3 linked regions of the Homo sapiens genome follow. The protein of the gene in region 2 purifies or fractionates together with the protein of the main gene of each other region. This does not show direct contact. Each region holds a gene or a part of one and is shown on either strand. Other genes may lie near its edges.

Region 1 (7,454 bases), on a different chromosome or scaffold from region 2:
TCTTCTTTCGGTTCTTCTTAAGGAATGTAAAGAGCAGAAGGAATCTCTTTTCAGAAGGACAAACAACATATCCCTAGAAAGCGTTTAAGCAGACAGATACAAATGAACCAAGTGGACATTTTCCATTTCCTAACTTGTGTAATTTCATCAAGAGCACTGATAAACACAGTGTGTAAACTGTCATGCCTCACCTACAGCATTTTAAAAGTTCATTAACCCATTTGCTTTCTGAATGATCCTTCCAACAATTACATAAAAACACCAAGTAAGATCCCTACAGTTTTCAGTTATTGATAAAAAGTACCTGTTCAAGACCATCCACTGTTGCATTCGCTTTATCATCATCAACGCCAACATACAATGGCTCCTTTTTCAGAGAAATCCTTGCCAGGTCTTCAACTTTTCGAGTTTGGGTGGCAGAAAAGAGCATAGTCTGTCTACGTGCTGAAACAGATACATATAAAAATAACCCCAATCTTTTAGGGAATCTTTACAATTGCCTCACAACTACAAATATTCTAGGTAGAGATATCAGAAATGGGAGATATGATGTTTCTACAGAATCTACAAATATTACAAAAGGTAAAAAGGGTATATCATGAAACACTAGGTCTATAAATTTGAGGACTTAGATGAAATGGACAAACTCCTTTGAAGACAAACAACTGAAGAAAATAGGAAAACTTTAAATAGCCTTATATCTACTAAAGAAATTTTAGTTATAACCTTCATGTAAAGAAAATTCCAGGCCCAAATGGATTCCATTGGTGAATTCTACTGAACATTTAAGAAAAAAACATCAATTATTCACAAACTCTCCAATAAATTAAAAAGAGGGCTTACATGTCAACTCATTCTTCGAAGTCAGTCATTACACTATACAAAAACCTGACATGACATGACAAGAAAACTATGGACCAATACAATTCGTGAGCACATATACAAAATTTGAAATAGAATTTTAGTAAAGTGAATTCAGCAATATATAAAAAGGATAATGGCTCATGTTTATTCTAGAAATGGATCAGGTTTATTCTAGAAATGCAGGTTGGTTCAACATTTGAAAAATCAACCAATACAATTCACTATGTTAACTAAAGAAAAAACATGATTATTTCAGCAGACAGAAAAAAAACATTTGACCATCTATTTCTGATTAAAAATCCTCAGCAAACTAGGAACAGAAGGGATCTTCCTCAATCTGATAAAAGGCATCTATATAAAACCTGCAGCTAACTTCATATGTAGTTAATGGTAAAAGACTGAATGCTTTCCCCTAAGATCAGAACCAAGATAAGGATGTCTGCTCTCACCACTTCTATTCAGCACCATACTGGAGGTTCTGGCCAGGGCAATCAGGCAGGAAAAAAAAATTAAATAAAGAGGTGAAACTGTCTTTATCTGCACATGATTGCCTATATAGAAAATCCAAAAGGCTACAGTCATCTGGAAAGTCATACTGAATAATCATTCGGTACAGGATTAACTGTCTTGCTAGATACAAGATCAATATAAAATTCAACTGTGTGTGCATATATATGTGTGTATATGTGTGTGTGTATATATGTATATATTAAAGCAACGAGCAATTGGAACTTGAAATTTTAATGAAACACTCAGAGATAAATCTGACAAAAGATGTGAATAAACCTGTATCCCGAACCCCCCTAAATATGATAGAGAAAATATCGAATACATGGAGATATACCTTATTATGGGTTACATGACTCAATACTGTCTTCCTCCAATAATCTCTATTCAATAAAATCTCAGTCAAGATCTGAGACTTTTTTGGAGGGAAGGGGGAGAAACTGACAAACCAATTCTAAAATTTATATAGAAAAGCAAAGGACAAGAATACCACAACTTTAAAAGAGAACAAACTTGGGGCTAACATTACCTGATGGTCAAGACTTAATAGGAGGAACTGGAACTTTCATACACTGCTCATAGGAATGTTAAATGGTACAGCCGCTTTGGAAAACATCTGGCAGTTTTTTAAAAAGTTAAACATACACTAAACATATACCAACTAGGACACTCCTAGGTTTACTTAAGAGAAAAGGAGATATATGCCTCTACAAAGAGTTGTAGATGACTGTTCACAGCAACTTTATTTCCAGAAAATGCAACCTAATCTAGCAGCAGAAAACAGATCAATACTCACCTGGGGACAAGGTATACGTGTAAGGAGGGGTGGGAGGGAGAAATTGAAAAGGGGCAGGAGGAAACCTTTGACTGTGATGGACATGTTCATTTTCTTGATTGCAGCGATGATGTCACAGTGGTAAACAAATCAAAGAACATCAAATTGTACATTATAAATGGGTAGATATAATTATACTTTGACAAAGCTTTTAAAAATAAATTATATAATGAAGGAAACCATGGTCTTAGTTATAACCAGTTCATAATGTTGCAAGTACTATAACCAAGGTATGTACAAGTAAGGCAAAAAATCTGCGGCTTCTTGGGGGATGTTAGATGAGGTAAGAATGGGCAAGAGGTGGAGGACAGGACCTATGTGAAGACTGCTTAACGTGCCTTATAACTTCTAAAACAGCAAAACTATTATATCAAGTTATAATACATTTGATGCTTGTATTCCAAATTACCTTTCGGGTTAATTGGCACAACTACCTCACTTGGCTATGGTAAAGTTCTGGCATTAGTACAGTTTTTCTATAGGAACAACTCTTATCTACCTCCAACAGATACTTTGCAAACCAAATGCAGATGCTACCTACTTACTTGGCAAAAGTTTAATAATTTGCTTTAATTCCTCTTCAAACCCCACATCCAAGATACGATCAGCTTCATCAATAACCAGACACTGCAGGTTTTTATACATAAATCCTGGGGTATTCTAACAAAACAAAGGACAAAGAACAACCATTAGTTGTCAGTTTATGTTTCATACAAGACAATGAGACAAGCACTACATCTCTTACCTGCATATGGTCCAGCAGACGGCCTGGTGTGGCCACAATGATGTTGATCCCATTACCAAGTTTCTGTGCTTCAGCAGATCTGTTACTGCCACCCATTATCAAGCCATAGGTATGCACGTGGTGAGTCATCAGCTCCTTAAGAACACCAAAGGTTTGCATGGCTAGTTCTCTAGTAGGTGAGAGAATAAGGACTCCTGTTCCTAAAAATGATATATGGTAGAAGTCTAAATGTGGCTGTCACCACTGAGTCCGTAACAGCTACAATAAACCTCTAGTGAAATAATGGCAGAAACAAGCAGATGAACGCTTACCATTCCTGGGCATGAACCTTAACTTAACAATGAGTTCAACTGCAGGGATGAGAAAAGCCAGGGTTTTACCACTGCCTGTTTTTGCAGCTGCTAGAAGATCCCTAAATATTAAAAAGGGAAAGGAGAAAGACATTTAGCCTACTCATTTACGACGTACTACATACACACACCTTAGGCACTACGGCTAGAACATGAACAAGAAACGTCTACAGTGCTGAAATTGATCACCTGGGTTATATACTGAAATCATAAGTCAGAACTGTGCTACAACAGAAGCAGAACACCTTTCGAACACTTTCCTTCAAACATCAGTAATTAACTTAAAGCCTTTAATGTATGCTGGATACATGACCCAACATATAGTACAAAATCAACAGAATATACTGGTATGTTCTTTATCATCTACTAGTTCTAAAAATAGATGCCAATATCTAAGCTTCAATGTTAATCATACCTGCCTTCCAGAAGTGGTCTGATACTTTTATGCTGAATTTCAGTCATGTTTGTAAAACCCATTTCTTTTATTGCCTTCAGAGTGTTTTCATTGACAAGATTACATAGAGAAGCAAACGAAGTATCCTCAAAAGCTCCTAAACAGAAGACAATTTATCATTAGCAAATTTATCTTTTTTTTTAAAAAAGTATTGCTACAGTTGCCTAAATCTATTTTGCTTAGAAAAGCTTCCCGCAGTAAGAAAAGGCTAAACCTTAATTATTCATATGTGATAATATCAAGAAAAAGACCCTATATCTTTCAAGTTTCTCCACTGTTAACGGCTGTGTGAGTTATAGTCCAGAGACCATACTATAACAAAACAAGGGGTAGAGAGGAGGTATAACCAAGGAATTTATATAAAATAAAAATACCAAAACAAGGAAAATAATGAGAGTCCAGAGATAAATGAAATGTTTAAGAAATCTGATATAAAAGTGAAAACATTGAGCATTAATAAAAACTGAGTGTGAAGTCAATAATAAAAAAAAAACCTGTTAATCTCACTCCAACAAGACACAGAAGAGTCAGATACAGCCACAGAATGTTAGGCTGAGCCTACGTATCAAGTAATACAGTGGTGGTTCAGCAGAAGGCATCAAAATCACCTGGGGGTTCCCCATACTCCACATGCCCAGGGTGTAAACCAATCACTCTTGACCTTGGCATTGCTGACATCTGGGCTGAATAATTCTTTGCTGTGAAACACTATCCTGTGCCTTATAAGATATTATGCAGTGTTTCTGACCTCTACTCACCAGATCCCAGCAGACTGCTCCTAGCTCTGAGAACCAAAAATGTCTCCTAGGCTTAGGATGACCAATCTTCTCAGTAGGCTAGGGACAGAGGAGATTCTTGGGATTCAGAACTTTCAGTGCTAAAACTGTTAAAGTTCTGGGCAAACCAGGAAGAGTTACTCTTCTTACTCGGGGGGCGAATTTCCCTGCTCGAGAGCTACTACCAAAACGTTTGCAATTTGGATTAAGCAGGTCTAGGGTTGGGCCTCAACATTTTAACAAACCAACCAACCCAAACCAAATAAACAACTCAAGTAACTCCTAGACATATCTGGTTAGGAGCAGTGAATTCTAGCCTAAACTCAACTTTATAAAGGAACAAAGGCCAAAGGAGGTTAACCTCGTACAGGGCCAATCATTTTCCTATTACAACATAGAATGAGACTCAGAAAAGGACAAACCAAGGAATCCTAGAAGCTGCTAGTGTGCATATAAAATATTTGGTGTCAGGAATGAACAAAAGGAAAAAAACAGGGAACAAAAAGAACTAAAACACCACAAAATAGAAGATAAAGAGAAAAAGCAGCAGAAAGATATAAAAAAAGTTTCTTGTTGATAGTTACTTTTTTCAGGTAAACTGAAAGTCACAACTGAACCTTCAAACCTATAATCCTCTAAGAGAGGCACATTTTAAAGAAGTTACCTCTAGAAAACTTCCTGGACGTTACCTGTCAGTCCCAGGGGCAGACTGGGCACCTCACTCTCATCTTCATCATTATCTGGCTTCTCCACATTATTTTCTGTTTCTTTAGTAGTCTCGGCACTTTCTTCTTCAGATTTCCCTTTGTTTTCAGTTTTTGCTTTTTTCGTATCTTTGGTTTTAAAAGACAAAATCCGAAAAAATTTTTCCTTAAAATAGAATTCCAAATGAGATCAACAAACAGAAGATCTCTGATATAAAGACGTATATTTTCAAAAGCTAAGTATATGCTGTATTAATTTGTTAAGAATTCTGTTTGGTGAAAAATGAGTGGTTGTATTTAAAAACCCAGGGTACAGACAGACTTGGTGACAAAACCTTTTAGGCTTTTGTTCAACTAAACAGTATAAACATACCAATTATAAGTTTCACATACTCCACTGAGGGGAAAGGAAGCATACCTGATTAACATAATCCTTAAAAACTCATTATAAGTAGTCATTTTTCTTCCCACGCCAATCACTATCAAAGGCTCTTCATGTTACTAGAGATAGACTGTAAAGGAAGGGCAACAACCCACTTGCCTGGCTGACATACACTGGACTGTGCCTTGGCTATCAGGGATGAGGGTGGGAGGAAAGGCAGGGCTTCTTCCCACCCTCATTTCTACATTCACAACTTTCATGTGGCCCCAACTACCTTTTCAGTCCTACCTCTCACTTCTCTTTTCAATGTTCGACTCTGGGTCAAATGGATTAACCACATGCTGTGTTTATATAAAACTATATGGCAATTAGTGATGTTTGAAAAGAACTTAGACCACAACCCAGGACTCTCTGTAGCTCAGTACTGGTCTCCTCCCTGTACCTGACGGCCACCCTTCCAGGAAAGAGTCAACTTTGTAGGACCTACATGTTCAAAAGCCACAGATATCTTCAGCTGGTCTCCATGGCTTATTTTGTTTTCCCTGGAATAGTTCCTAAAATGTACCCATAAGGTGGTTGGGTGTGGTGGCTTCTGCCTGTAATCCCAGCACTTTGGGAAGCCGAGGTGGGAGGATCACTTGAGCCCAGGAGTTCAAGACCAGCTTGGACAACACAGTGAGACCCCATCTCATAATAAAACAAACAAACAAACAAACAAACAAAAAACCCATAAGGTTAAAACGCCCAGCATTGTGATTCAATGCTTGGGAGCAGAAATAATACCACTTCCTGGGGCATACTCAAAACAAGAATTGTGAAGGCAATAATTTTAGAACAGGATTACAATGACTTCTGTGTGTAGGCATCATGAAGACAGTAATGCATGTTTGGAAAAGTTCAAAGTCCCTTTCTAAATAAAACCCTTATTTCAGGTAAAATACATGAATAGGATGTTCCAACTCAGGGGCTGGCAAACTTTCCGCAAAGGGCCAGATAGTAAATAGTTTAGGCTTTGCAGGTCATATGATCTCTGTTGCCATAAACACAACCAAATAGGCATTGCTATGACCCAGTAAAACTTTATTTACAAAAACAGGTAGAAGGAGGGATAGTTTGCTGACCCCTATCTTATCCTACCTTGATATCTCTGCTTATACAAATCTCAATTATAATGTCCATTCTTTCATCCGAGCTTACTGAAATTCCATCATCTTCAAAAAACATTCCTTCCTTTTCCTCCTGCCATTCTTAGCACTTGGAAATTAATGTTCCATTTATTCAGAAGTTTCCTACTTTATATACTTTGTAACTAATATTCCTTTCAAAGGGAGGAATTTATGGAAGGAAAATGGGAAGAATCAAGCAGGAAAAAAGGTAACTTAAAAAGAAGAGAAAATTTCTAGAATTCTAAGGAGAGTCTTTTCTGAGAGAGGTTTTCTTCAAGGTTAGTGAAATTAAAAATATATTCCTCAATATTTTGAGAAAAGTTGAAATGGACTCCCCGCTTCTGCCAATAAAATGTTTCCATTAGCTACCAGGCTAATCTCTAACATACTGGTGAGTACAGGGAATTCTCATGTCATGTGCACACAATAGTAATAGAAAGAGGAACAATAACCGTCTGTGAAAAACTAAATGGCTGAAGTTCAAAGATAATAAATACCTACCAGGCTCAGCATCATTCACCATTTTTCTCTTTTTCTTCTTTTTCTTTTTTGATTCTGAATTGGAAGACTGCATTGCTGCTTCTCCATTGGTTAATACAGTGGATTTCTGGGGAGACTTTGTAACTTTTATATTTCCCACTGCTTCTTGAGACATGCCTCCATTTTGAGTT
Region 2 (7,289 bases):
ATGCCCAGCACCTATGCTGACTACAGTAAAAATGCTCACTTCCAGGGCCAGGCGCGGTGGCTCGCACCTGTAATCCCAGCACTTTGGGAGGCCGAGGAGGGCAGACTGCCTGAGGTCAGGAGCGAGACCACCCTGGCCAACATGATGAAACCCCGCCTCTACTAAAAATGCAAAAATTAGTCGGGCGTGCTGGTGGGTGGCTGTAATCCCAGCTACTTAGGAGGCTGAGGCAGGAGAATCGCTTGAACCCAGGAGTCAGAGGTTGCAGTGAGCCGAGATCGCACCATTGCGCTCCGGCCTGGGCGACAAAAGCGAGACTCTGTCTCATCTAAAAAAAAAAGCTCACTTCCAACCCCCTTCTCATGATGTCTATTGCTGTCACACTACTACTGATGTCATCCTTCCCCTGAATACCGTAAGTCTCCCCACAGGATTCTTTCCTCCGACCCTTACCTCTCTGCAATTGATATTTAAGGACAGCAGCCAGAGGGACCACTTTAAAACAGAAGTCAGACCCTGTCTTTCCTCTGCCTGAAACCCTCCAACGTCTCCCAATTAAAAGCTGGAGTCCTTACAGTGGCCGACAAGGCTCTGAACAATGTCTTCTCTGTGCCCGCTCCCCAAATTGTGTCATTCTCCCTTTTGTTCATTCTGCTCCAGACAGACTGGACACTCCCGCTTCACTTGAAACTCTTCAAACATGCCAAGCTCACCCCAGGGCCTTTGAACTTGTGTTTTTCCTTGCCTGCAAATTCTTTTACAGGGTTCACTGCCCCACTACCTGTGAGTATCTATGCAAATGGCATTTTATGACAGAATACTTTCCTAACCACACTGTTTAAAAATAGCACCCCACTCCTGGAGCACCCTAACCCTCTTCCCCTACTTCATTGGATTTTTTCCAGGATAGTTAACACCTTTGGACATGGTACACATTTACTTAGTTTCATCTCGTTCCCTTCCCCCACTAGTGTGTAAGTTGATGGAGCCAGAGACCTTTTGCTTGCTGCTAAATCCTCTGCATCTAGAACAGTACTGAAACATAGTAAAAATAATTTCATGGAAACAGACAGCCCCAGCTATCAGCCAAGTACTGCTCTAAGTGCTCTTCATATACCGTATCATTGTACTTACAAGTCTACCTGATCAGAAGATGTTTTAGCTTTGAAGCAAAAAACAAATAAACAGGCTGGACACAGTGCCTCATGCCTATAATCCCAGCATTTTGGGGGCGAAGGTGGGCAGATCACTTGAGCTCAGGAGTTCAAGACCAGCCTGGCCAACATAATGAGACTCCATTTCTACTAAAAATACAAAAATTACTGGGCATGGTGGTGTGCACTTGTGATCCCAGCTACTCGGGAGGCTGAGGCAGGAGAATCACTTGAACCTGGGAGGCAGAGGTTGCAGTGAGCCAAGATCACGCCACTGCACTCCAGCCTGGGCAATGGGAGTGAAACCATGACTCAAAAACAAAACAAACAGCCACAACCAAAAACAGTTCCTGAATAGTAACAGAAAATACATACCTCATATTACAACCAGGTGCTATTCTAGGCACTATATGTTATTTCATTTGACCTCATGCCAGCCCCATCAGATAAGTTCTATAACTCACTATGTTACCAAAGAGAAAAGTGAAGAACATAAACCATATCCTCATAATCTAAAACAGTACCTAACATGTAATGACACTGATCATAATAGCTAAATTGTATAAAACTATGTGACAAGTACTTTTCTAAAAACTGAAGGAGGCCGGGTGTGGTGGCTCACGCTTGTAATCCCATGACTTTGGGTGCCCGAGGCGTGCGGATCAATCACTCGAGGTCAGGAGTTTGAGACCAGCCTAGCCAACAAGGCGAAACCTTGTCTCTACTAAAAATACAAAAAATTGGCCAGATGCGGTGGCTCACGCCTGTAATCTCAGCACTTTGGGAAGCCGAGGCAGGCGGATCACGAGGTCAGGAGTTCACCACCAGCCTGATCAACATTGTGAAACCCCGTCCCTACTAAGAATACAAAAATTAGCCGGGCGTGGTGGCGCGCACCTGTAATCTCAGCTACTTGGCTGAGGCAGGAGAATCGCTTGAACCTGGGAGGCAGAGGTTGCAGTGAGCTGAGATCATGCCATTGCCCTCCAGTCTAAGCGACAGAGCAAGACTTCATCTCAAAAAAAAACCAAAAAACAAAAAATTAGAAGGGCCTGGTGGCAGGCGCCTATAGCCCCAGCTACTTGGGAGGCTGAGGCAGGAGAATCCCTTGAACCTGGGAAGGGGAGGTTGCAGTGAGCCAAGATCGCACCACTGCACTCCAGCCTGGACAACAGAGCGAGACTCCATCTCAAAAAAAAAAAAAAAAAAAATGGGCCAGGCACGGTGGCTCACGCTTGTAATCCCAGCACTTTGGGAGGCAGAGGTTGCAGTGAGCCGAGGCTGCGCCACTGCACTCCAGCCTGGGTGACAGAGCGAGACTACGTCTCAAAAAAAAAAAAAAAAAAAAGAACATGAGGAGGTGTTGGGAGTTATGGACACAGGGGATGGGTCAGATGTGTTTCAGAGTATGCAGAGCAGGCTCCTGGGACCATACTTACCCGAACTCGGTTGATGCCACCATAGTGGGGCACCATGGCCAGCTCCAGCTGAGGTTTCCGCTCTTCTTCATCCTCTTCATCTTCCTCCTCTTCTTCTTCATCACTGCCCTCTGAGGGTGGGGGCTTTGTCCCATGCAGATTGTGCATCCGAAGCATCATCAGTCTGGGAGAAATTGTGGGGTGAGTTAGGCACTAGATTCCAGGATTCTTAGGAAGGAGAGAGGCTGGAAACCCAGACTCCTGGATCTGCGAGAGGCAGAAACTGGAAGCCCTAACTCCTGGGTGCTGAGGAAGGGGCTGGAAACTGAGCCTCCTGGTCCTGGAAAAGCCTCGGGTCTTACCTGTTGCTCTGGGCGCTCTCAGCCTGGGTCCCAGCACACAAGTAAAGTGTAAGAGGAAGCTCTGTCCGGTTGTCTCCCAGGTGATCCCGGACTATGTCAAAGCTGAGACAGGGGGCGCCTGGGGATGGAAGGCGGGGTTTACGAGTTAAGACGGGACAGTAAGAGCTCAGTCCCCACCTCCCTCATGGATCAACCGCCTCCGGTATGAAATCACTTCTCTTAGACCCCAGCCTTCTCTTCCCGAGCACCTCTCAGGTTAAAGGCTCGGGATCAGCCACCTCAGGACCCTGGAGTCCGGACTCAGCCCTACCAGTCTGCGCTCGGTGGTAGAGCACATAGGCCTCCTCGTCCATGACCAGCTCCTCCCCTTCGCGTAGCGGCGGCCCCCGGCCGGGCAGGTAGACCTGGGCCGGGCCCTCGGAACTTGTGTCGCCGGACTCGGCTTCCATGGGTTCCCCGGTTTCACACGTGCGCCGCCGACCCTTGCGCGCCGCCATCTTCGAACCCTCTCGCTGCTGACACCCGGTAAGAGCGTCACTTCCGGGTTTCGCTTTCCGCCTAATGAGATCCGCCCTACTGCGCGGTTACCTTGGAAACTCCTGGGACCGCTAATCGGAGAGGGTGCGGAAACGCTGGAGGAGAACTCAGGTAATGGCGCCAGCGAAAGAAGCCTGCGGATACGGAGAAACTGCATCTTCGCGTGACTTTGGGCGCTGTTCCTCGCGGTAGTGGCAAGGCCTTCTGGGAGTTGTAGTTCTACGGGAGGCTTGTTTTCCCCATTGTCCAGTTTGATTCCGAGAGCGTTCTTTCCAGTTAATTAATTATTCATATATGCAAATTTGCTCTTTCACTGGCAAGGAGACTGAGTTTCTACTCCCCGAGGACCCATAAGGCCGGTTTCTTTTCCTCTCTCTGTTGTGATGGCTTTCATTTGTTTCAAAAATGCTTTCTTGTAGACAGGATGGATATTATCTGTAAGTTAGGCGGTTCAATCTACCCTCTAGGGGCAGTCAATTGCCTAACCAGACATTCACATTTCAGCTCTGGTCAGCGAGCACTTAATCAGAAAGTCCACCCTCTGGAGGCAGCTATTACAAGTGCTTCGTCTCTCTTTATCGCCCATCAGCACCAGCGGTTTGGCTAATTGACATAATGAAATGTTAGAAATAGATTCTCATTGGTGAGATTAACAGCATTCAAGATAATGCGGATTGGCTGGGATATGTCAGACACTCTCCTAGCTTGCATGAACAGGATATTGAGAATGTAGCAAGCCTTGGTACCTATAGCCATAGGAAATAAAACCATACCTTTGATCTTAATATGTTTTGTCTCCGGGATCTATCTCACCACTCTCTTGGGGTCTCTTATCTGCCCCAGTACCCTCTCGACTTTCTTTTCAGGGTCTCTTCCCACCTCCTCTTTCTTGGTCTTTGTCTCCCCAGGCACCTCCTTTCAGAGTCTCTGTTCTCTCTCTAATTCTGTCTCCTCTTCCCCTGTGGGACTTTTGTGTTTCTGTTTCCTCCAGAGAATTTGAGGGGGGCTAACAGATACGGAGCTTAGGCTTGGACTGAGGAGGCATAAAAACATGGTTTATTCCAAACACTGCAATGTGGAATAAGAGAGTGGGAAGGGAAGTTGGTGGAGAAGTGTGGACTCCCAGACCCTCCCCTCCGCAACCCAGCCCCAGACCCGGCTGGAGATCTGGGCAGAGGAGGCTTTTTGGAGGTCTGCTGGGTCATCACTGAAGGGTCGCAAATAAGGGTTGGATTTGGAGAGGATGTGCTTGGTGGCAAGTGGGGTGGTCCGGAGGTGCGGCAGGGTGGGAAGTTTTGGCTTCAGGGAGGTTGGGTTCATCGCGGTGCAAGGGAAGGCGGGGCTTCCGTTGGGGACGTGTCCTAGGTCAGAGTAGGGAAAAGCGACCGAGGGTGGAAGAGGAGGAGGGGGTGTCACGGTTTGATGTCAAGGGTCACAGTCTGGTCGGGGCACAGTCTGGGGTTCGGGTCACAGTTTGGGGTCAGGGGTCACAGTCTGGAGTCGGATGACCATTTTAGGAGTCGGATGTCACAGTCTGGGTCAGGGGTTTCTGTGTGGCGGGGCCAAGGTCTGGGGTCACAGTTTGGCGAACGCGTCTCACAGTTTTGAGTCCCAATGGATGAAAGGTTAAAAACGGGCTTCCCCGGAGGCGCGGCTGGGGCCGGGGAGCTGCACAGTGATGTGGGGGCCACGGCCCCGGGCGTGGAGGTGGGACGCGGGAGTGGCGTGAACCCCCCACCTCCCGCCCCATCTGGTGACGTTAAAAAGCCCTTGTCGGGTTTAAAAAAAAGTCCGGTGGGCTCCAAGGCCCCCGCCCCCTCGTTCTCAGGCTGGGTGATAGTTGAGGGACCAAATCCTCTCCGGCTTGCGGTTCCTCCAGAACCAGGGGGCGCAGGACGCTGCTCCAGGCGGGGTCCGGCCAGTTCCACTGCTTTCCTTCCCAACCCACGCGGGTCCTGTCCACTGCGGGCGCCCCCTCGGGCCGTGGCCTGCGCTGACCAAGGGGGCGGTGGGGCCCCCGGGGCCGCGTCATACCTCGGACTCGAGGCTAGAGAAGTGCGCCGAGCCCCTGCGGGTGCCCAGGTCCCCGCCCCGGTGTCTCCGGTGGGAAGCTGTGGGCAGCGGCGGCCCCCAGTGCGCGGCGTGCGGACACCTGCGAGCGTGGCGGGAGGGCCCGGTAAGCCTGCGCGCAGGGGCGGCGCGAGGGCACGAGCTGAGGTCCTCGAGCGAGCGCGAGGTGGGCGCGGGCGGCGGGAGGTCCCAGCCCCCAGCGGCGCGCCGGTGCCTGTGGTGGTGGGGCGCGGCGGCGGCGGGCGTGCGGTGCGAGGCCCGCGGGCGGTGCGGGTGCGACCGCGGGCACCCGCAGCGGGCCCGGCGTCGGGGCAGGGGCCCGGCGGCCCAGGGTGGAGGCGGTGGCGCCCACCAGCCGCCGTCCAGGCCATCGTGCGAGCAGCTGAGATGGCGCGGCGGCGGCAGCAGCTCCAGGCTGGCGCAGTGCCGACAGTGCCAGGCGGCCGGACCGCTGCGCGGGGGCAGGTAGTCCCAGCTCCCGGCGCGCCAGCCCCCGAGCTTGTCGACCGACCAGTAGCGGCCGGGCGGCGGCCCGAGGCGCTCGGCATACGGGTAAGGGAAGTCGGCGAACCACCAGGGCTCCAGGCCGCCCAGCGACGCGCCGCCCAGGCTCTCCGAGTCCTCCGAGTCCGACGGCGACGGCTCGAGATCGAGGTAAGGGCACGGGGGCGGCGCGGCGCGGCACGGGGGCGGAGCGGCCGGGGCTCCTCCGCCTGCGCCCCCCGTGCCCCCCGCGCCGCCCGCGCCTGGCCCCAGCAGGGGTTGGCTCTCGGGGTCCGAGCGCGGCCACCGCGCGGGCGCCGGCGGGCTCTCGTCCTCGAAGGCCAAGCGGCAGAGTGGCGGCCCGACGGCGGTGGCCGCGGCGGCGGGGGGCGCGGGCGGCGACGGGAAGCCGGGGAAGGCGCCGGCGGGGGGCTCGGCTGGCTCCTTGTCGCGTACGATGGCGAAATAGGAGGGCGGCGGCTTCTGCGGGGGCTGAGCGGCCGGCGGGGACAGCGGGCGCCCGGCTGCGCCCCGCGGTGCCGCGCGCGCTTCGCCCAGGCCGAGGCCTAGGCCCTGCGGCTCGATGGGGCCGTAGTAGCGGTGGAAGCCGTCGGCCAGGCCCGCGCCCCCCGGCGGCCCCGCGCCCTTGGTCCGGCGCCAGCGGTCCACTGAGGCGCGCTCGCGGGGCACGAAAGGTGCGGGCCCGGGAGCCGGCCGCGGCGCGGGGTACGCGGGGCTGGGCAGGGGCTGTGGCGGCGGCGGGGGCTTGGCGGGCGGTGGGGCGGCCTCAGCGCTGCAGCAGCTGTACATGCCCTGCGGGTCCGGGGACAGGACGGGGGTCAGCGCGAGATGCCCAGGACGCCTGCCCGCCTCCCCTCAGTCCCTCTCTCCTCTCCATTTACCCGCCTGTGTTTCCCGCTCTCTTCCCCACTATCCACATCTCGACCCACATCTCCTTGTCTCTGCTCGGCTTTACCTTTGTCCCCGCCCCTGCCATCTCCCCCTCTCTGCCTCCCTCTCTGCCCCATACCCTGGAGAAGGCCAGCAGGAAGTCCATGCGGTGGGTGGGCCCCAGGCAGTGCCGCAGGCGCCAGTACACCAGGTGCTCCCAGGCGAAGACCAGCAGGGACAGGCCCATGGCCACCAGGAGCATGTAGAAGACGCCCGCCATGTTGTCGATGTCCAGCTTGCTGCTCATCACCTCGATTTTGTCATTGTGGCAGATCCCAGAGAGCCACAGCCGCTCCAGCATCTCGATCTCATCT
Region 3 (7,454 bases), on a different chromosome or scaffold from region 2:
ATTCTAGACTTTGTTTCCATTTTTGTTATCAGTATGGGGCTCTGTGCCTCCCCCCAACCTCTGCCCTATGTCTGAGGGTGAGGGTGAGGGTGCCTTTCTCTGGGGCTGCCGTTTCCACTCTGCCAAGTGCAGTCTCAGCTCCCCTGACGCCCCTGGTACTCTTGCTCCTTCAGCAACGCCTCACTCCAAAGCTGTTCCATGAAGTGGTACAGGCGTTCCGAGCAGCTGTGGCCACCACCCGAGGGGACCAGGAAAGTGCTGAGGCCAACAAATTCCAGGTCACGGACAGTGCTGGTGAGCTTGGGGGGAGCCTGGCATCCAGGCTGTCTGTTGCGTTCTCTGTCCCGTGAGTACATCCAGGCCTTTTCGTTGCAGCATTCAATGCTCTGGTTACCTTCTGCATCAGAGACCTCATTGGCTGTCTCCAGAAGCTGCTGTTTGGAAAGGTGGCAAAGGATAGCAGCAGGTAAGAGGGGAGGGGGTGAAGGGGGGTAGGGTGGAAGGTGGGTCGGGACCACACACAGGAGAAGCCAGAGGCCTTGTGGCTAGGACAGAGACATGGCAACAGAGCCAGCGTCTTCTTGGGGACCCTGAGAAGGCAGCGGGGCACGAGGGACCGTTGGGAGAGGCTGGGCACTTGGGGCCAGTTGGAGCGGCCCCACCTTCTTTCCTTCCTGAAAAGGGAAGTTGTCTGCTCAGAGTCTCAGAAGGTGTGGCGTGTGCAGCTGCCTTTGCTCTCAGATTTTCCCAGGTTAGGGTTCTTGCTCTATTTCCCTTTGTAAGAACTTGTAAGTCCTGTCCATACTCCTTGATCTCTGCACTATGACTGGCCTGTTTCCTGGAGCTGTGTGTGTCTGTAGACAGGGGCCTCATCAATGCTGAGAACCTGAGGGCCTCAACTTCCCCTTTAGAGAAAGATTGGGCAGAGAAGGCCGTGGAAGGTTTTCAGAGAAGAGAGACGCACGGCCAAGCATTTGGTAGAGCATGGAGCACGTTGGGGTTCCGGGGCTGTGCAGCCATGTGACCTTGAGGCAGTGGAGGCCTAGAGTTGGAACTGCCCCAGGACACCTTCAAAGGAAGAAAGGAGACCCACAGGAGAGGTCTCGCCGACAGCGGCTCAGGAGACAGGGGCACTGTTGCTGGTGGTAGTGGTCGGGGCTGGACGGATAGAACAGAGCCATGTCCACATGGAGGCAGTGCTGTCCGAAGGGGACAAGGAAGCTGGCAGATGGGGGTGGAGGGACAGGCAGCGATTGGGAGGCAGCACGCACTGCAGCCTGAGCCACCAGGTCAGGGACCCCTGTCGAGGCAGCAGCTGTACCGGAGGGAGTCAGGCCGTGGGGAGCAGAGCTGCCTCCTGGGTCTGGGTGGGCAGCTGCAGGTGCCCAGCAGCCAGTGTCAGCACAGGTGTGAGGAGGGTCGAGGACGGGGGGCCTTTCTGGGGCCCTGCCCTTTGTCCTTCCCATGCTTCAGCAGATTTTAGTGAGCGCCTACTGCGTGGGCTCTGGTAAATGTTTTGTTTTGTTTTGTTTTGTTTGTTTGGTTTTTGGTTTTTTTTTTTCCTTACGAGATAGGATCTTGCTCTGTCGCCCAGGCTGGAATGCAGTGATCATAGCTCACTGCGACACGTACCTTCTGGATTCAAGTGATTCTCTCACCTTAGCCTCCCAAGTAACTGGGACTCCGCCACCAGGCCTGGATAATATTTTGTATATTTTTGTAGAGACGGGGTCTCACTGTGTTGTTCAGGCTGGTCTCAAACTCCTGGGCTTGGAGTTTGATCCTCCTGCCTTGGCCTCCCAAAGTGCAGTGAGTACTGGCATGAGTCTCCACACCTGCCCTCTGATTTTCTTTTCTTTGTGCAGCAAATGTGGGCCAAAGGAAACCAGTCTGCGGCAGTTGGTGGTGCCTGGGCGACCCCAGAGGTGCTGAGTACCAGCTGCTGGGCTTAGGGACCTCGTGTGGTCTCACGGTGGGGATGTGATCAAGGGGACCTAGAAAAGGTTTATGTCTGAGAGGGAGTTGGAGGCTGGGACTTCCGGGGACTCTTAGGGCGGTGGCCAACCCTGGGCAGGGCAGACAGGAGTTCAAGGCCACTGAAGGAGGAGCTAATGCACTTGAGAGGGTCCTCCTAAGCCCCTGTGTCTGTCCAGCTGTAAGGGGCCCTGAGCTTTTTTGAGTGGAGAGACGGGGGGTCTCTGCAGAGTCGTAGAGGCTATGCTGGCCAGGGCACGCGCCAACATGCTGAGCAGCCTCGCGTCCGAGCCGTGGGGCCTCCCAGCCAGGGGTGGGTGGTCTCTCTGCAGGATGCTGCAGCCGTCCAGCAGCCCGCTCTGGGGGAAGCTTCGTGTGGACATCAAGGCTTACCTGGGCTCGGCCATACAGGTGCTATTCTGGTGGGGAGGGCACGGGGGCCTGGCTGTATCTGGTGGTCGGTCCTTTTTTGTATCCCAGAATACATGGGTTTGGGGCTTCACTGTCCCCTCCTGCCCCCAGCTGGTGTCCTGTCTGTCGGAGACGACGGTGTTGGCGGCCGTGCTGCGGCACATCAGCGTGCTGGTGCCCTGCTTCCTGACCTTCCCCAAGCAGTGCCGCATGCTGCTCAAGGTTCGTGGCCCAGTCCCCTCCCTGTGTCTGTCATGGGGTCGGGGGGCCACACGGCTACCCCCACCACATCCCACTCCTGGCCAGGGCACAGGTGGTGCCCACACTCCACTGGCTCCGCTTGGCTAGAGAGGCCACAGAAGCACCTGGCCCCCACCCCCACCTGGGGTTTCTGTCTCAGGCAGTCCCTGCCTGCCCGGGCAGCGCGGCTCAGTCCGTGAGCAAAGCCACGGTGAGGTATCTTCTTCCCGGTGTGATCTCACATACGTCGGCGTGTCTGACGTGGTAAACTTTTGTGGTCCTCTTCTCACAAGGAGCAACACACCTGTTCTGTTCACTTCTGTAACTGAGCACCTAACTCACGGCTCCCCCGAGGTGCTTTGGGAAGAGCTGGTGGCCATGGGAGCCTTTGCCTGGCTGGGGAGGGCTGTGCTGGCCCTGGGGCATCCCTGCTGAGGAGGCTGGGGGGCCACCAGTGACGTCTGACCTTCTGCAGAGAATGGTGATCGTATGGAGCACTGGGGAAGAGTCTCTGCGGGTGCTGGCTTTCCTGGTCCTCAGCAGAGTCTGCCGGCACAAGAAGGACACTTTCCTTGGCCCCGTCCTCAAGGTAGTGGTGGGCCCTGCGTCTGTGTCCCTCAGCATCTGCATTGGAAATCTCGGCCTAAGGGCAGGGCGGGCTGCCTTTGTGGTTGGTGCCCCTCACTGGACCCTCACTGCAGCTCTGAGCAGACCTGGGCCCTTGGATCACGAATGTCTCACAGAGCACCTGGGGGTGGTGGGCAGGGAAGAGAGCCCTCGGCCTTCTCAGGGCCCCACCTGGACCCTGCTTCACACAGCTTCCCCAGGGGAGGGCCTCTCTGGCTGGAGGAGGACACTGGGTGTTGGGACCTGAGGCCATGGCCAGGGTACAGTCCTACTGCCCGTCCCCAAGCCATGGGTGGCCTGCATGTGGGGACCCTCAGCCCCCAGAGGGGCCCAGTGTGCAGCAGGAGCTTCTGCCCCAGCTTCTCCCAGGCCTGAGGCTGGTGGGCACTTGGGGGTGGGGGCTGTGCAAGGGGCTACGGCTCTTCCTCGAGGCCCAGCTCTGAGGGAAAGGCCCAGGTGTTCACAGGGGCCCTGGAGTGGGCGGTGGAGGTGCATGGCCCTGATCCCAGGTGGCTCTGACCCGGGTCTCTCCGCAGCAAATGTACATCACGTATGTGAGGAACTGCAAGTTCACCTCGCCTGGTGCCCTCCCCTTCATCAGTTTCATGCAGTGGACCTTGACGGAGCTGCTGGCCCTGGAGCCGGGTGTGGCCTACCAGCACGCCTTCCTCTACATCCGCCAGCTCGCCATACACCTGCGCAACGCCATGACCACTCGCAAGAAGGTGTGTGGTGGGGCCCTTCCAGGCTCATGCTGGGCATGGGGTGGGGCAGCCCAGGTGCCCGACCCAAGGCAGGGCCTGGGGCCTCCCCGAAGCCCCTGTCTGGAGACAGCCCAGCACCCTGGTGCAGTCGGTCCTTGCAGGTGGGGGAAGGGTGGATGGGTTGAGACCCCGTGTGCAAGATGAGGAAATGATTCCTGTGCCGGCCCAGGAGGAACGTGCATCAGCCTGACTTGTCAGCCTGGCCAGTAGCTGACGTGGTTCTCTCTGACCAGGAAACATACCAGTCTGTGTACAACTGGCAGTATGTGCACTGCCTCTTCCTGTGGTGCCGGGTCCTGAGCACTGCGGGCCCCAGCGAAGCCCTCCAGCCCTTGGTCTACCCCCTTGCCCAAGTCATCATTGGCTGTATCAAGTGAGTTGTGGGGTGGGCAGGGTTGTGCGGGAGGGTCAGGAGAAGCAAATTTGCTGGGACTGTGTGGGCGGTGCCTCTGGCGTTCAGGGCCTTGGGGCCTGAGTCTGTGTCCTGGCCGTCCCTGAGGAAGGGCTGGGGTCCCTGTACCTGCTACGGGGAGATGCTCTGGATTCTGGAGAGCTAGGGCTGGTGGGCACCTGTGACATGAGCTCCTCCAACAGCGGTTTAGCCGCCTCGGGTGCCACCCAGCGTGTGTTCTGGGGGCTTGTGTGCAGTTTGCAGTGAGTTTGGTTCATTACGTGGGGTTCTTGGGTGGAGCACATCTGATGCAGTGAACTGCATTTTGGGTGTGAGCGCTTAGGAGGGTCCAGGCACGGTAGGGGCTGCAGCAGGAAAAGGTGGGAGCAGTACTGTGGCCTCTTTGGCCAGGAGGGGGCATCTGTCTGGCTGAGCCTTAGAAACTCAAGGCTGGGAAGGGAGGTGGGAAGTCCAAGGGAAGAAGTAGGAAAGGCGGGAACAGGGAGGAGAGCAGGCAGGAACAGATGACCCCTGCCACCGTGTTGAAATAAAGCTGAAAGCTGGGTAAGGTACCTGCAGCCCCATAGCTGGGCAAGGGGTGCAGGTCCCTGGGGTTCAGACGTGCCTTGTCCTGCTTTAGGGGTCTGATGTCGGTGAGTGGGGGAGGAGGTCCAAGACAGCAGGGGGAGGGGCAGGGGCTGCCAGAGCCGGGGCCTCTGCTCACTCGGCCTTCCCACCCCCAGGCTCATCCCCACTGCCCGCTTCTACCCGCTGCGAATGCACTGCATCCGTGCCCTGACGCTGCTCTCGGGGAGCTCGGGGGCCTTCATCCCGGTGCTGCCTTTCATCCTGGAGGTGAGTGAGGCTGTGGTGGGCGTGTGGCACCTCTGCCTGCTCCTGTAGGGAGCATCTGCTGCTCCGGGCGTCTGTGCTGAGTTGTCCGGCGACTTCCCGGAGCCCTGGCCGCCTCCTTGTCACGGGTGTCACGAGGACAGTGCTCCTCCGTGTGCTGGGGGCAGTGTTGGGGAACGTGGGACCACTGGGGATGAAGGCGGCTGCTGCTAGGGCTGTGCTTGAGGATGCCGGGACCTGACCCTGTAGGTGCTTGCCCAAGACTGGAGTAGGCAGGAGGCGAGATGGGCCAAAACCCAAGTCTGATTGCTGAACTGTACACTGAACAGTGCCCTGCCCTGACAGTTGTGTGCATGTGTATGCATTTGTATGGGGGATGTGTGTACATCTGGGTGGGTGCGTTTGTCTGTGCATGCATGCGTGTGTGTGCACCATCTGGGTGCATGGGTCTGTAAATCTGTGTGTGTGTGCATATCAGTTCATGTGTGCATCTGTATGTGTGTATGCACGTGTATCCATGAATGCCTGTGTGCCTGCAGGTGTGTGCATCTGTGCGTGTGTACACCTGTGTGTATGCATGTGTGTACCTTTGCGTGTACCTTTGCGTGTGTGCACCTGTGCATGTGTCTTTGTATACCAGTGTGTACCTGTGTGTACCTGTATGCATGCACATGCGTGTGTACCTGTGTGCACCTGTCTGCATGTGTGTACCTGTGCGTGTGTGCACCTGTGTGCATGCATTTGCGTCTGCATGTGTCTACCTGTGCATGCATGAACCTTTGCATGTGTGCATCTGTGTGCATGCATGTGTGTCTGCGTGCATCTATGTACCTGTGTGCACCTATGTGCATACACACGTGTCTGTGTGCACTTGTGTGCATGCATTTGCATCTGCATGTGTGTACTGTGCGTGTGTACCTGTGCGTGTACCTGTACACTTGGGTGCATGCATGCACGTCTGCTTGTGTGTGCCTGTGCGTGTGTGCACCTGTGTGCATGTACGTGCGTCTACGTGTGTGCCTGTGCATGTGTGCGCCTGTGTGTACCTGTGTGTATGCATCTTTGCACGTGCACATGCCACTCAGGTAGGGAAAGATTGGAGTCCGAAGTTTCAACTTTCAGTGGGTGGGTTAGGCCCCACCCCGCTGTAAATTTAGGAATTCACGATCTCCACCCTGTTTATCTAATGAGTTCTCAGCCTCATGAAGGCCCAGAGTCGTGTCACAGCTGTCCTTGGGGCTGGGTCCCCAGGTTGCTGGGTCCAGAAGGTATGGAAGCCCCAGGCACGTTCTGATTCCCCTTCCACTGAGGCAGGGATGCTGAACATCTTTAGGAAGCCATGTTCACTCCCATGGCAGCCAGCAGTGGTCTCTGATTGCCCAGCCCTTGGCCTGGCCCCTGTGTCTGTGGGCCTCCAGCTCTGCTGCCCAGCTCCAGGCATGCTTTGTGTCTGTTTCCCTTGTCCAATCTCCTTGGCTACGTGCTTTCTTACTCTCTTGCAGTGTCTGTTTCTTCACTTGTGCACTGCCCTGGTTCACTGCAGCCGCACCCTGTAGGCCCCTCTCACGCAGGGATGCAGGCCTCTCCTCTCCGGAAAAAGCAAACCCTAAAAGCTAAAACAAAGCCCTCAGCTGTAGGCCGTGCCTGCCCTTCCCCGGTGCCTGGACAGGAAGCCAGTCGCCTGCCCATACTTTTGGCCCAGGCTAGAGAAGGGCAGTGTCCTCCCAGAGGTTCATCAGTACCAGGGCGTTTTCCCATCTGGACCTGAGCTCAGCTGTCTGGCAGCCACCCCTGCTGAGTGGGGTGTCTTGCTGGGGCCTCCACCCTTGGGCCCCCCATAATCTGCTTCTGTCCTCTGGTGCCCCAGCATGTACCCTGGATCTCTCTGGTTCACAGCCTGAGGGCTCCTAGTGGTTGGGGAGGGGTCACAAGACTGAGAGGCCAGGCTGACTCTTTCTCTGCTCCTCCTGGCATGTCCTACGGAGGTGCATGGCCTGTGGCTTCTGTGGAGGGTGTGGGAGGGGCCCCCCAGGCCTCCCGTGACCTCCATCTGTCCCGTCCTGTGTCTGGCACTCTTTGCTGTTGCTGCTGCGTCTTCTGGTTGCTCGGGACGGAGCCCCATGTGGCATTGCTGTGCTGAGGGCCAGGATGGGCCTCAGTGCCATGTTGTCAGGAATGGGGGCTGTCCTGGTACT

What was found.
Region 1: the proteins of GRWD1 (region 2) and DDX18 purify together in Homo sapiens (affinity purification with mass spectrometry; 2 studies listed by BioGRID, with this or other methods). This does not show direct contact.
Region 3: the proteins of GRWD1 (region 2) and NOC2L purify together in Homo sapiens (affinity purification with mass spectrometry; 2 studies listed by BioGRID, with this or other methods). This does not show direct contact.

The regions. Positions count from the first base shown.
Region 1 is NC_000002.12:117,817,559-117,825,012, reverse strand, and holds part of DDX18 (ATP-dependent RNA helicase DDX18), read right to left. Parts: coding exon 7,285-7,454; intron 5,365-7,284; coding exon 5,221-5,364; intron 3,853-5,220; coding exon 3,717-3,852; intron 3,364-3,716; coding exon 3,263-3,363; intron 3,152-3,262; coding exon 2,952-3,151; intron 2,867-2,951; coding exon 2,752-2,866; intron 445-2,751; coding exon 305-444; intron 74-304; coding exon 1-73. UniProt on the Homo sapiens protein: ATP-dependent RNA helicase that plays a role in the regulation of R-loop homeostasis in both endogenous R-loop-prone regions and at sites of DNA damage.
Region 2 is NC_000019.10:48,442,148-48,449,436, reverse strand, and holds the start of GRWD1 (glutamate-rich WD repeat-containing protein 1), read right to left. Parts: upstream 3,455-7,289; 5' UTR 3,432-3,454; coding exon 3,245-3,431; intron 3,053-3,244; coding exon 2,935-3,052; intron 2,757-2,934; coding exon 2,594-2,756; intron 1-2,593. Other genes in the region: GRIN2D (glutamate receptor ionotropic, NMDA 2D precursor), read right to left, coding at 5,500-6,837, 7,055-7,287. UniProt on the Homo sapiens protein: Histone binding-protein that regulates chromatin dynamics and minichromosome maintenance (MCM) loading at replication origins, possibly by promoting chromatin openness.
Region 3 is NC_000001.11:948,935-956,388, reverse strand, and holds part of NOC2L (nucleolar complex protein 2 homolog), read left to right. Parts: intron 1-173; coding exon 174-294; intron 295-375; coding exon 376-466; intron 467-2,306; coding exon 2,307-2,385; intron 2,386-2,496; coding exon 2,497-2,607; intron 2,608-3,100; coding exon 3,101-3,214; intron 3,215-3,788; coding exon 3,789-3,977; intron 3,978-4,249; coding exon 4,250-4,389; intron 4,390-5,150; coding exon 5,151-5,262; intron 5,263-7,454.